4 linked regions of the Homo sapiens genome follow. The protein of the gene in region 3 purifies or fractionates together with the protein of the main gene of each other region. This does not show direct contact. Each region holds a gene or a part of one and is shown on either strand. Other genes may lie near its edges.

The links. The genes of interacting proteins can lie anywhere in the genome.
Region 1: the proteins of MVD (region 3) and TTLL5 purify together in Homo sapiens (affinity purification with mass spectrometry; one large-scale study listed by BioGRID and IntAct). This does not show direct contact.
Region 2: the proteins of MVD (region 3) and NSDHL purify together in Homo sapiens (affinity purification with mass spectrometry; one large-scale study listed by BioGRID and IntAct). This does not show direct contact.
Region 4: the proteins of MVD (region 3) and GLS fractionate together in Homo sapiens (co-fractionation; one large-scale study listed by BioGRID). This does not show direct contact.

Annotation. Positions count from the first base shown.
Region 1 is NC_000014.9:75,765,746-75,769,245, reverse strand, and holds part of TTLL5 (tubulin polyglutamylase TTLL5), read right to left. Parts: intron 3,185-3,500; coding exon 2,878-3,184; intron 1-2,877. UniProt on the Homo sapiens protein: Polyglutamylase which modifies tubulin, generating polyglutamate side chains on the gamma-carboxyl group of specific glutamate residues within the C-terminal tail of tubulin.
Region 2 is NC_000023.11:152,837,563-152,841,062, forward strand, and holds part of NSDHL (sterol-4-alpha-carboxylate 3-dehydrogenase, decarboxylating), read left to right. Parts: intron 1-3,500. UniProt on the Homo sapiens protein: Catalyzes the NAD(P)(+)-dependent oxidative decarboxylation of the C4 methyl groups of 4-alpha-carboxysterols in post-squalene cholesterol biosynthesis. Also plays a role in the regulation of the endocytic trafficking of EGFR.
Region 3 is NC_000016.10:88,660,292-88,664,348, reverse strand, and holds the start of MVD (diphosphomevalonate decarboxylase), read left to right. Parts: upstream 1-1,257; 5' UTR 1,258-1,268; coding exon 1,269-1,338; intron 1,339-1,567; exon of another isoform or gene 1,568-1,630; coding exon of another isoform or gene 1,631-1,637; intron 1,638-3,711; exon of another isoform or gene 3,712-3,829; intron 3,830-4,057. UniProt on the Homo sapiens protein: Catalyzes the ATP dependent decarboxylation of (R)-5-diphosphomevalonate to form isopentenyl diphosphate (IPP).
Region 4 is NC_000002.12:190,963,437-190,966,052, forward strand, and holds the end of GLS (glutaminase kidney isoform, mitochondrial isoform 1 precursor), read left to right. Parts: 3' UTR 1-2,116; downstream 2,117-2,616. UniProt on the Homo sapiens protein: Catalyzes the first reaction in the primary pathway for the renal catabolism of glutamine. Plays a role in maintaining acid-base homeostasis. Regulates the levels of the neurotransmitter glutamate, the main excitatory neurotransmitter in the brain.

The DNA of each region.
Region 1 (3,500 bases), on a different chromosome or scaffold from region 3:
CAGCTTTAGGGAACACAGTCTGAAAACCACTGATTGACACTAACGCAGCCTGCAATTTTAACAGTTTACTCATTCAAAGCGAGAGCCACAAGATTCATGAAGAAATAATTTATTTCTACAACAACTAAGCAGAATGTTATTGCTGGAAAGGACCTTAGAATACAGTCCAGTGGTTTTCAAATGCTCTATTTTCAATTCAGTGAAATCTTCTTTCCCTCTAGGAAGAAGTTTGAAAAAACACTTGTCTAACTCCACATCTTGGATTGACAGAAAAGGAAACTGAGGCCTATAGAAGCTCTTTGACTTGTCTATGACCACACGGCCAGTTGGTAGCACTAAAACAGCCAGAGCTCAGGTCTTCTGACTGAGTTTAGCATATTCTATTCTCCACTGACAGAACTATTCTTATTCTCCATGACACTGTTCCAAACCTTAACTCTATCCCCTGCTACTCCAATGTCACCCTCCAGCCTTTCAGTATAAGAACTGGCCTCTAATTTAGAAATAAAGACTATCATGCATAAACGGCTAAACTTCCTTGCTCTTAAACTTCTGTCAACTTCATTCATCCCATAGCACTTTCTTTCTGACTGATAGGAAGAGATACTCCCTCCTCTGGCCTCTTCCCACCTTCCTTTAGTACTCTTCTCTACCAATATGTCCATTTCTGCATTTCTAATCCTCTTATCCTCAAATCCTTCCCCTTAGTCTATAAACAACCTCCAGAACCTCTTCTCAAAAGAAAAAAAAAAAATCCGTTTCTTTTAGCTGGCTGTCTCCCTGATGCATTCTTACCTTCCTTTCATTGCCAAACCCTTAGACAGTTAGTTCACACTTGCTTTCTTATTTTCTCCACTCACAACTGGTCTTCCACCTACTCAGTTGGCCCTAGGTCACAAATCCAGAAGTCTCTTTTCACTATTCATCCTAACTAGGGCTGTTTGAGGCTCTACAGACCTGAAATGCTCATTCTGCAGCTTTTACCATACTACTCCTTCCTGATCTTATGTCTATTGCTCTAACTGCTACATCTTGACCTTTTTACTGACTTACCCATTGAACAGTGGTATTCCCCAGGGCTCAATTCTTTTTTTATCCTTGCTGAACCAAATAAATTTGTGAACAATCTTATCCATTCGCAAGACTTTACCTACCAACTATACAATCCTGTTCAACCTTGATCAACAAAGCTGTCCACCTGTCTATTGGACTTTAGCCCAGAACCCTTCTTCCTTACTACATCTTAAATCAAACTCATTGTTTTTAACATGAAACCAACTCCTATGTTCCTTATATTGACCAAAGGCACCACCAAGTTTCCAAATGTGAAAAACTTAGTCTCATCAATTTTACTTTGCAAATTTTACTAAGTCCATCCCATTCTCTCCACTCCTAAAGCCATTACTCTGATCAAGGCCTTCATCTTCCTGGCTCTGGACAATTCTAACAGTCCCTAACTCACCCCCCTGCCTTTAGTTTCACTATCCCACAATGCAAGCACGATTTACTTTCTAAAACAAGATCTCACCGTATCATTTATCTGCTTAAAAGTCATCTAGAAAATAAAGCTTAGGCTCCTCTTACGGCCCTTCACAATCTAACAACATCCAATTTTTTAGTCTCATTTCTTACCATGCTCTTCTCCTTATATAATTCCTCTAGTCTGTATTTTGTAAACACACCAAGCTCATTACGATGTCTGGGCTTTTGTACTTGCTATTCTGCTGGGAGTATTCTGCCTCCTACTATTCACACGACTGACTCCTCATCATTCAGGACTTACCTCAAAGGTTACCTCTTCATGCCAGATCACTGCAATTAAGTAACTCTGCCCAATTACATTCTAACATTACACCATCTTATTGTCCTGACAGCATTTCTCACGACCTGAAATGACCTTGTTTCTTTGTTAACTGTCATTCTTCCCCACTAGACTGTAAACTCCAGGCCTATCTTGGTCCCCACAGTAATGTGATATGGCCTAGCACAACTGGCATAGGGCAGGTGCTCAATAAAAACTCACTGAGGGACTTAATGAATGACTGTATTATCACACCTCTATGTCTTTTTTTTTTTTTTTTTAAGATGGAGTTTCACTCTTGTTGCCCAGGCTGGAGTGCAATGGCACAATCTTGGCTCACTGCAAACTCCACCTTCCAGGTTCAAGCAATTCTCCTGCTTCATCCTCCCGAGTAGCTGGGCTTACAGGCATGCACCACCACACCCAGCTAATTTTGTATTTTTAGTAGAGACAGGGTTTCTCCATGTTGGTCAGGCTGGTCTCGAACTCCTGACCTTAGGTGATCCGACCACCTCGGCCTCCCAAAGTGCTGCAATTATAGGTGTGAGACACTGAGCTTGGCCACCTCTACGTCTTTATTGCCTCTACCTAGCACTCCCACATTTAACCATCACTTCCCAAAGCTCCTGAAACCCTACTCATCTGTCAAGGCCTGATTCAAATTTTCCCTCATCCATAATGCCTTTCTAGCCCTCCCAAGCCAGACCAATCACTCTTTTTCTGTGTCCTAAGACCACTTTGTTCATAGTGGGGCCATGGCCTGAGCTCTCTGTCTCTGATACTAAACGACGAGCTGCTTGAGCTCCTTGTCCCAGTTACCTTATACTCAGTGACTGACACAAATGCCCAACCAATGAGACCCGGGTTTGTATCATAGCTCTACCTTAGACAAGTTACCTAACCTCTCTAAGGCTCAGTTTCCTTAATAATAACAGTATCTAATCACAGTCATTATTTCATAGGACTTCTGTAAATATTAAATGAAAAATGACTGTAAAACCACTAAAATAGTAGCTGGTACACAGTACAAGTTAGCTGTTATCAGTTTTACTAATATAATTATAAAAGATACATACCTAAGATTGCCATTATCTTGAAGAATCTGCATCAGGTTAAATTTAGGCTCTAGCTCCTGAGTCTCAAGTTTGCAGCAGTGTCCACCTTTATTATTCCATTCACGAACTTTCATGGAATTTTCTTTGGGTGTATTTTCTACCAAAGCTGTCAATGAGGGTGTATATTTGGCTTGATTTTCTCTAAGAAATCCTGCAGACTCCTCCTGGGAAGCCTCCTGTTCTTCATCTTCATTATCTAATGCGACTTCTTCCTCCTCTTCACTCTCTGTCTCAGTTTTAACATTCATTTCAGCTGGTTGGGTAATCACTAAATACGAAGAATCACTAATGTTGCTGAAAAAAGGATTAAATGTTCCTCTCTCCCAATACCTTCCTTTTCTCTTTTTAGTAAAAGCCCATTTCTAAACCAAACCACAAACAAGGCACAGAATTAATAGCACCCACATGTCACTCTCTAATCTCATATATTCTTTTATTTATTTTTGTTTTCATTTATTATCATTTTTTGATTCAGGGTCTCGCTCTGTTGCCCAGGCTGGAGGGCAGTGGCAGGATCTCGGCTCATTACAGCTCGACATCCTGGGGTCAAGTAGTCCTCCAACCTCAGCCTTCCAAGTAGCTGG
Region 2 (3,500 bases), on a different chromosome or scaffold from region 3:
TTTGTCTTTGGTTCTGTTTATATGCTGGATTACATTTATTGATTTATGTATGTTGAACCAGCCTTGCATCCCTAGGATGAAGCCCACTTGATCGTGGTGGATAAGCTTTTTGACATGCTACTGGATTCAGTTTGCCAGTATTTTATTGAGGATTTTTGCATCGATGTTCATCAGGGATATTGGTCTAAAATTCTCTTTTTTTGTTGTGTCTCTGCCAGGCTTTGGTATCAGGATGATGCTGGCCTCATAAAATGAGTTAGGGAGGATTCCCTCTTTTTCTATTGAGTGGAATAGTTTCAGAAGGAATAGTACCAGCTCCTCTTTGTACCTCTGGTAGAATTCGGCTGTGAATCCGTCCGGTCCTGGCCTTTTTTTGGTTGGTAGGCTATTAATTATTGCCTCAATTTCAGAGCCTGTTATTGGTCTGTTCAGGGATTCAACTTCTTCCTGGTTTAGTCTTGGGAGGATGTGTGTGTCCAGGAATTTATCCATTTCTTCTAGATTTTCTAGTTTATTTGCATAGAAGTGTTTATAGTATTCTCTGATGGTAGTTTGTATTTCTGTGGGATCGGTGGTGATATCTCCTATATCATTTTTTATTGTGTCTATTTGATTCTTCTCTCTTTTCTTCTTTATTAGTCTTGCTAGCGGTCTATCAATTTTATTGATCTTTTCAAAAAACCAGCTCCTGGATTCACTGATTTTTTTTGAAGGGTTTTTTGTGTCTCTATCTCCTTCAGTTCTGCTCTGATCTTAGTTATTTCTTACCTTCTGCTAGCTTGTGAATGTGTTTGCTCTTGTTTCTCTAGTTCTTTTAATTGTGATGTTAGGGTGTCAATTTTAGATCTTTCCTGCTTTCTCTTGTGGGCATTTAGTGCTATAAATTTCCCTCTACGCACTGCTTTAAATGTGTTCCAGAGATTCTGGTATGTTGTGTCTTTGTTCTCATTGGTTTCAAAGAACATCTTTATTTCTGCCTTCATTTCGATATTTACCCAGTAGTCATTCAGGAGCAGGTTTTTCAGTTTTCATGTAGTTGTGCAGTTTTTAGTGAGTTTCTTAATCCTGAGTTCTAATTTGATTGCCCTGTGTCTGAGAGACGGTTTGTTGTGCTTTCTGTTCTTTTACATTTGCTGAGGAGTGCTTTACTTCCAACTATGTGGTCAATTTTGGAATAAGTGTGATGTGGTGCTGAGAAGAATGTATATTCTGTTGATTTGGGGTGGAGAGTTCTGTAGATGTCTATTAGGTCTGCTTGGTGCAGAGCTGAGTTCAATTCCTGGATATCCTTGTTAACCTTCTGTCTTGTTGATCTGTCTAATGTTGACAGTGGGGTGTGAAAGTCTCCCATTATTATTGAGTGGGAGTCTAAGTCTCTTTGTAGGTCTCTAAGGACTTGCTTTATGAATCTGGGTGCTCCTGTATTAGGTGCATATATATTTAGGATAGTTAGCTCTTCTTGTTGAATGGATCCCTTTACCATTATGTAATGGCCTTCTTTGTCTCTTTTGATCTTTGTTGGTTTAAAGTCTGTTTTATCAAAGACTAGGATTGCAACTTCTGCTTTTTTTTGCTTTCCATTTGCTTGGTAGATCTCTCTTCATCCCTTTATTTTGAGCCTATGTACGTCACTGCACGTGAGATGGGTCTCCTGAATACAGCACACTGATGGGTCTTGACTCTTTATCCAATTTGTCAGTCTGTGTCTTTTAATTGGGGCATTTAGCCCATTTACATTTAAGGTTAATATTGTTATGTGTGAATTTGATCCTGTCATTATGATGTTAGGTGGTTATTTTGCCCGTTAATTGATGCAGTTTCTTCCTAGCATTGACAGTCTTTACAATTTGTCATGTTTTTGCAGTGGCTGGTACCAGTTGTTCCTTTCCATGTTTAGTGCTTCCTTCAGGAGCTCTTATAAGGCAGGCCTGGTGGTGACAAAATCTCCCAGCATTTGTTTGTCTGTAAAGGATTTTATTTCTCCTTCACTTATGAAGCTTAGTTTGGCTGGATATGAAATTCTAGGTTGAAAATTCTTTTCTTTAAGAATGTTGAATATTGGCTCCCACTCTCTTCTGGCTTGTAGGGTTTCTGCCGAGGGATCTGCTGTTAGTCTGATGGGCTTCCCTTTGTCGGTAACCCGACCTTTCTCTCTGGCTGCCCTTTACATTTTTTCCTTCATTTCAACTTTGGTGAATCTGACAATTATGTGTCTTGGAGTTGCTCTTCTCGAGGAGTATCTTTGTGGCATTCTCTGTATTTCCTAAATTTGAATGTTGGCCTGCCTTGCTAGGTTGGGGAAGTTCTCCTGGATAATATCCTGCAGAGTGTTTTCCAACTTGGTTCCATTCTCCCTGTCACTTTCAGGTACTCCAGTCAAATGTAGATTTGGTCTTTTCACATAGTCCCATGTTATTTGGAGGCTTTGTTCATTTCTTTTTACTCTTTTTTTCTCTAACCTTGTCTTCTCACTTTATTTCATTAATTTGATCTTCAATCACTGATATCCTTTCTTCCAATTGATTGATTTGGCTATTGAAGCTTGTGCGTATGTCATGAAGTTCTCGTGCCATGGTTTTTCAGCTCCGTCAGGGCATTTAAGGTCTTCTCTACACTGTTTATTCTAGTTAGTCATTCATCTAACCTTTTTTCAAGGTTTTTAGCTTCCTTGCGATGGGTTAGAACATGTTCCTTTAGCTCAGAGAAGTTTTTTATTACCAACCTTCTGAAGCCTACTTCTGTCAACTTGTCAAAGTCATTCTCCATCCAGCTTTGTTCTGTTGCTGGCGAGGAGCTGTGATCCTTTGGAGGAGAAGAGGCACGCTGGTTTTTAGAATTTTCAGGCTTTCTGCTCTGGTTTCTCCCCATCTTTGTGGTTTTATCTACCTTTGGTCTTTGATGTTGGTAACCTACAGATGGGGTTTTGGTGTGATGTCCTTTCTGTTGATGTTGATGCTATTCCTTTCTGTTTGTTAGTTTTCCTTCTAACAGTCAGGTCACTCAGCTGCAGGTCTGTTGGAATTTGCTGGAGCTCCACTCCAAACCCTGTTTCCCTGGGTATCACCAATGGAGGCTGCAGAACAGCAAATATTGCTGCCTGATCCTTCCTCTGGGAGCTTCGTGCCAGAGGGTCACCCGCCTGTATAAGGTGTCTGTCGGCCCCTACTGGGAGGTGTCTCCAGTTAGGCTACATGAGGGTCAGGGACCCACTTGAGGAGCAGTCTGTCCTTTCTCAGAGCTCAAACGCCATGCTGGGAGAACTACTGCTCTCTTAAGAGCTGTCAGACAAGGACGTTTAAGTCTGCCAAAGTTTCTGCTGCCTTTTGTTCAGCTATGCCATGCCCACAGAGGTGGAGTCTATAGAGGCAGTAGGCCTTGCTGAGCTGTGGTGGGCTCTGCCCAGTTCGAGCTTCTCAGCCACTTTGTTTACCTATTCAAGCCTCAGCAATGGCGGACGCCCCTCCCCCTCCAGGCTGCAGCCTCACAGGTGGATCTCAGAC
Region 3 (4,057 bases):
TCGGCCTCCCAAAGTGCTGGGATTACAGGTGTGAGCCACCATGCCCAGCCAATCTGAGCTATTTAAAAACTAAAGGTAAAATTTTAAAAGGGGAAGGGGAAAATGGGAAGTCATTGTTTTAAGGGGACAGAGTTTCTGTTTGGGGTGAGAAAACTCTAGAAATAGTGGGGGCGTGGCACATGATTGGAATGAATGGCAGGGAACGGCACGCTTAAATGTTCCTGTACGTTTCACAGGAGAAGTCAATGCACACACAAGCGCCGCAACCCAGTCCAAGGCTTTGCTCCTACAGGGCCTTACAGGGGGTATTTGAGACGCCCACCTTAATGCAGGTTGGACCCAGCTCCGGGCTGCGGGGCTTCCCCGCCCCGGGGTCTTTCGTGTGAGCCCCGTGGCGGGGGATCCTGGCCCAGGACATGGCGCGGAGAAGGCTGTGGGCGGCGGGACAGGGTGCCTTCGGCTGCCGGGTTAAGAGTGGATCCCGGGATACATCCTCCAGCGCCTGCCCTCGGGCCTGTGTGCACCCCCATACCCAGCGGGGCCGTCCAAGAGCTTCAAGGAGGGCACAGCGCGACCCGCCCTCCCCTCAGCCCCGCACACCGTCCCACGGCCCCGCACAGCCTCCCTCCCACACAGCGCCCCACGGCACCCGCACAGCGCCCCACGGCCCCTTCATGGTCCCCGCACAGCGCCTCACAACCCGCACACAGCGCCTCACGGACCCTTTACGGCCCCCGCAGAGTCTCCCACACGGCGCCCCACACAGAGCCTCACGGACCCCGCACAGCGCCTCAAGGTCTCCGCACAGCCCCCAGCACAGCGCCTCACACAGCCCTTCGCACAGCCCCCCGCACAGCTCCTCACGGGCCCCACACAGCTGCCGCACAGCCCCGCACAAGCCCGCACAGCACCAGCAGACAGGTAGCCCCCACAGGCAACAGCGCCCACCTCGCCGCGCCCAGACCCCGGATCGCCGACGCGGACGCCAGGCGCCTGGGCACACGGCGCCTGCGCAGACAACACCACGCCCCAGGCCTGGCGAGCGCACCCTGCGGGTGGGGCGGACCTACGTCAGCAACCCATCGTCCGATCCCGTCCATTGGCTGAGAGGTAATGCGTGCGCCCGACTCGCCGCTGATTGGTCGGCGCGCGAGCAGCCGGGCTCGCACGGGCCAATCCTGTGGTAGCGCGTGAGGAGGCAGAGGCCTCTGGGGTGGGATCGCGGGCCGTAAGTGGCTGTGGAGCTGGGGTCACTGCGCGGTGGGACCATGGCCTCGGAGAAGCCGCTGGCGGCAGTCACTTGTACAGCGCCGGTCAACATCGCGGTCATCAAGTACTGTGAGTGCCGCGGGCCGGCCTGGGACGGGGATGGCCGGGAGCGAGGCCGGGTACGCGGGGGTCGCGCGCTGATTCGGCGGCGCGCTCCGTCCTGCCCTCCCAGGGCCTCGACAGACGGGGAAACTGAGGCTCAGGGAGGGGCGCGGCGGTGGTCGGGCGGGGCCGCGCGCTCCTTCGCGTGACAAGCTCGGCGCCACCCGTTCCCCCGCGACGGCTGCCGCCCCTGCAGGGTCGCCCGGCGCCTGCCCATTAGCGATTACCGAACTATCGAAATCATCAATCATCGATTCCCATGAATCGTAAGAATCCGCCGTGGTGGTGCGCGTTTGTGGCTCCAGCTACTCGGGAGGCTGAGGCGGGAGGATGGCCAGAGCCCGGGAGGTCGAGGCTGCAGTGAGCGGAAATCGCGCCACTGCTCCCCCAGCCCGAGACCCTGTGTCCCTCCCTCGCCCCGTTTCTCCCAGCGGTAACCTCCAAGGAGCGGTAATGGGGGGCCCGCAGGCCCACATCCGTGCCGGGGAGGCCGGTCCGCACCTGTGCGTTCACAGCCCCGCCCCTCCCCTCGCGCCGGGGTTACCTGGCCGCCACTGACCACTCATTTCTGTAACGTCATTTCAAAATGTTCTGAAACTGGAATCGCAGTTATGTGGCCCACCCAGTATCTTTTGAGTTTGGCTTATTTCATTCAGCATAGAATGTGGACGTGCCCCGGGATTGTATCAGTGCTTTGCCCCTCTGTTGCTGAGCCAGTCCGTGGAATCCATGGACCACCCTCTCTCTAGCCAAGGCCTCACCCCGCAAAGAGCATCTAACGTTTTCTTTCTTTCTTTCTTTTCTTTCCAGAAGCCGCCACCACGACTGGCTAATTTTTTTGTGTTTCCCTTACCAATAAAGCTGCCATAAAATGTTGTATACAGGTTTTTGTGTGAACATACATTTCCATTCTTCTGGGATAAATGCCCAGGAGTGCGGTTGCTGGGTCAGATGGTAGATATATATATATGCCTCTCTGTCTCTCTCTCTCTTTCTATGTATATATGTATGTTTGTGTGTGTGTATATATATATACACCTGTATAGATATATGTGTGTGTATATGTATACACCTATATAGATGTATGTGTGTGTATATATACATATATATATTATATATATACTTTTTTTTTTTAAAGAAACTGTCTAATTGTTTTTCAGAGTGGCTGGGCCATTTTGCATCCCTACGGTGATGCAGATTTTCCGCATCCTCACCAGCATTTGGTGGAGTTGCTGTTTTTCATTTTAGCCGCGTCCTGGTAGGGATGTGCTGGCAGGGTGCTGTGGTCCTCATTCGCGTTTCCCTGTTGGCCAGTGACGTGGAGCATCTTTCTTTGTGCTTATTTGCCATCTGTGGGTTTTCTTGGTGAAATCTCTCTTCATATTCTGTGTCCACGCTCGAACTGGATGGTTTGCTTTTTTACTATAAGTTTGGAGAGTTCATTACACATTCTAGGCTGGGCACGCTGGCTCAAGCCTGTAATCCCAGCACTTGGGGAGGCTGAGGTGGGCGGATCACCTGAGGTCAGGAGTTTGAGACCAGCTTGGCCAACATGGTGAAACCCCCGTCTCTACTGAAAAAAAATAAAATATGTATTCTAGATATTAGTCTCCTGTTGGACATGTGGTTTGCAGGTATTGTCTCCCAAACTAGCTAATCTTTTTGTCCTCTTAACAAAGAGCCAGTTTTTCATTTTAAAGAAGTTCAGTGTATCAATGTTGATGTCAAGTCTAAGACCTCTTTGCTTAGCCCTATGTCCTGAAGATTGTCTGCTTTCCTCCAAGTTGTACAGGATTGCCTTTTATATTTAAGTCTGTGATCCAAGGTTGTCCAGTTAGCCCAGAAAGGCTATCCTTCCTCTATTGAATTGCTTTTGCACTTTTGTAAAAAAAAAAATCAGCTGGGCATGTTTGTGTGGGTCTATTTCTGGATTTTCTCTTCTGCTATTTTTTTTTTTTTTTTTTTTTTTTTTGAGACAGAGTCTTGCTCTGTCACCCAGGCTGGAGTGCAGTGGCACAATCTTGGCTCACTGTAACCTCCGCCTCCTGGGTTCAAGCAATTCTCCTGCCTTAGTCTTCTGAGTATTTGGGACTACATGCACGTGCCACCACACTTGGCTAATTTTTGTATTTTTAGTAGAGATGGGGTTTCACCGTGTTAGCCAGGCTGGTCTGAAGCTCCTGACCTCGTGATCTGCCCACCTCAGCCTCCCAAAGTGCTGGGATTACAGGTGTGAGCCACCGCGTCTGGCCTTTTATTTTTATTTTTTATATTTATTTATTTTATATTTATATTTTTATATTTATTTGTATTACTTTTATATTTATTTTTTTGAGACAGACTGTCACTGCGACACCCAGGCTGGAGTGCAATGGCGTGATCTCGGCTCACTGCAACCTCCGCTTCCCGGGTTCAACCGATTCTCCTGCCTCAGCCTCTCGAGTAGCTGGGACTACAGGTGTGCGCCACCACACCTGGCTAATTTTTGTACTTTTAGTGGAGACGGGGTTTTGCCATATTGGCCAGGCTGGTCTTAAACTCCTGACCTCAAGTGATCTGCCTGCTTCGGCCTCCCAAAGTGCTGGGATCGTAGGTGTGAGCCACTGAGGCTCACCAACAGTGATATTTATGGAAACGTGTCCATTTTCTTGTAACGTTCAGAGACTCTGGTCTTCTTTAAACCTTA
Region 4 (2,616 bases), on a different chromosome or scaffold from region 3:
CTATATGCACTTACGGTTGTGTGTTTAAAATGTCTCTCTCACCCCCTAGCTTCATGATGTGACTCTTAAAAAACTATAATAGTTAACAACTGTTAGTAAGATAGACCAATTCTGATTAGACTTTATCAGGGAATCTGTTTAAGATATGTTTGGTGACCAAAACGTATGTGTGAATGTAGTTATAATGCTTTTGAAAAATTTTCCTTTTTCTATATCCCCTTAGTCCAGCCTCTCTTCTCAGACATTTAGCTATCTGCCTCTTTCCTTTAGCTGGGAAAGTGAGAGCTGGCATACTATGCAGTTTTTATGTTTTCCATAGTAAGTCAGAAAATGCCTCCTATTTCTGGCATCAGAACTTTGCCATTTGTCTACAGAAGACGAACCAGAGACAAAATTACTAAGTATAAATTAGTCAAGTTTATCAGTCTAAAAAACGAAGGGATGTGCAACTGCAGCTCTTTAAGAAGTTTTTTTTTTTTAGCTTCTAGGGTAAAGATAAATTCAGAAATGCTCTAAGCTACCAAAGTTATTCTGAAAGTATGGGAACTGCTACAACTAACAAACATTTGTTTCCAAGCCTGTCATTAAGAGTCTGCATCAAGAGATTTGTCCTCCTTGGGGGACCACTGGATCATTCCAGATTTCTTGTGATTTTTCTATTGTGTAATTCTTGGTGGGCTCTGTAGTTTAATAATAAGAAAAAGGCCATTTCATTTTAAATTGTGACCTATAATTCTTTGTCTTGGGTTGGTAATTCAGGATTCATTTGGAAAGTGGGTAAAAGGGGCTTCAAAAAACGGATAGAACAGGATTTTCTAGGAGTTACACATACATTTTATCCTGTCATACCTCGAGATAAAGTGGCATGTTAGTGAGGAGTTCTGATATTAAGCACACACACACATGCACACAAATGGACTTCTCTGAAGCTGTGTTTAGTGAAATGAGCTCAAGTACATGAATGTTAGTTGTTATCACATACAGCAAATTCCTTTTTTTTTCTTTTTCTATGAGCACACTCTGCTGCTTCTAAACTTTACATGCCTGATGGCACCTTACTCCAGCAGCCTCCAGGTGCTTTCATTTTCACTTCCAGTCTAAGCCAGTGGCTCCTGCCACTGCCCTCCCATTACCTAGATGGCACCTCCTTTGGTGAAACCACGGCCAATGTTCCTTAGCTGCACCAGGCCCGAAGCTGTTCCCATGCTTGAGCTTCCATGGGGAGGATGCTGAGTGAGCAGTTTCCTACCCCGTGGATCTAGCAAGCCATGGAGACAGGTAGCATTTGTAAGATGCTGCACAGGAGCAGCATTATCCCCAAAGATATTACAGGGTAGACACGTTTTAACTGAAATCAATCAAGATAACTTTATTCAAAGAGCAGCCCGCTTTGTGTGACTAAAATGAAACAAGACAGTTGAATTGTGTGACTTGAAGATTACCAATGATTTTGAGGCTTTTCTATAATAAAAAGAGGTTCTAACCATTATTTGGGAACAAAGAGAGTTTTCATCTTTTTTCAGATCAAAACCATTCTGTAAAATCTTTGTTGTTTAATTAAATGTGCCGTTATTTACCCCTGATGTTATTTATGACTATGTGCCGATTCCTGCTCGGGCTGTTTGCTGTTGGCTGGTAATAATATATTTGATTTAAATGCTGTTGACTGTGCTATTAACTGCTGCCGTCAGTAAACTCCAAAGATCTTTTTGTTTTGGCTTTAGTATCATATGTGCTTTTTCTGTATCCTGAGCGCTCTATATGATCATGTTAATTTAAAGCTTTATACACATTGTTGTTTTTGCTGGTCTCATCTTTGGTAATATGCTATACCCCACTGCTGCCCGACACTGCCCTTTAGCTGCAGAGCTGGATTAGCTGTTGACCATTTGATGCTGTTGTCTGTCTGGCAGGGACTGAATGACCTGATGTCAGATTTAGATTCTTCCTGGGGATTACACAGCTATGAATGTATTTGCTTCTAAAACCTCCCAAAGTGAATCTAATCTTAAAACTACAAGTTGTAAGTATTCTGAAATTGGGAAACATTTATTTTAAATGCAATCAGGTAGTGTTGCTTTTTACAGCATAATAAATATATGTATCAAAAAAAAAACTGTGTGGAAAAAATGAATTTTCTTAAAACAATTAAGAGCCAGGAACTCCACTGAGCATACAGACCATCTCTGGTTAGGTTCCAATCCATTTCTAATGCCTGCTATAAAGCTAGGTACTACACAAGGTGTCAGATGGGGTTGCCACAATGACTAGGACAAGAATCCTGTGTAGAGTTCACCTTTGAAGGTGAGGGATGTGCAGGCATGTCTCTAGTCCTCTAGATGCAAACACTATCCTTTTACAGTTAGGAAGTGCTCAGTAAATATTTGTTGAATGGAACCAGTAAACATACCCTTGAATGAGAAGAGAGGTTATTTTCACAAAGCCTTGAAATTTATTTAGAGAGTTGAAGCTAGTACTGCCACACTAGAATCTGAGTGTCACCAGCCAGTACACCTCAGCTCCTAATTTATTCTGCGTGGGAATAGCATTCGCTTCCAATGCCAGAAATCCCTGGTCTTCAGAGCACTCTTTCCTTTCAGGCCAGGGGTTAGTGTA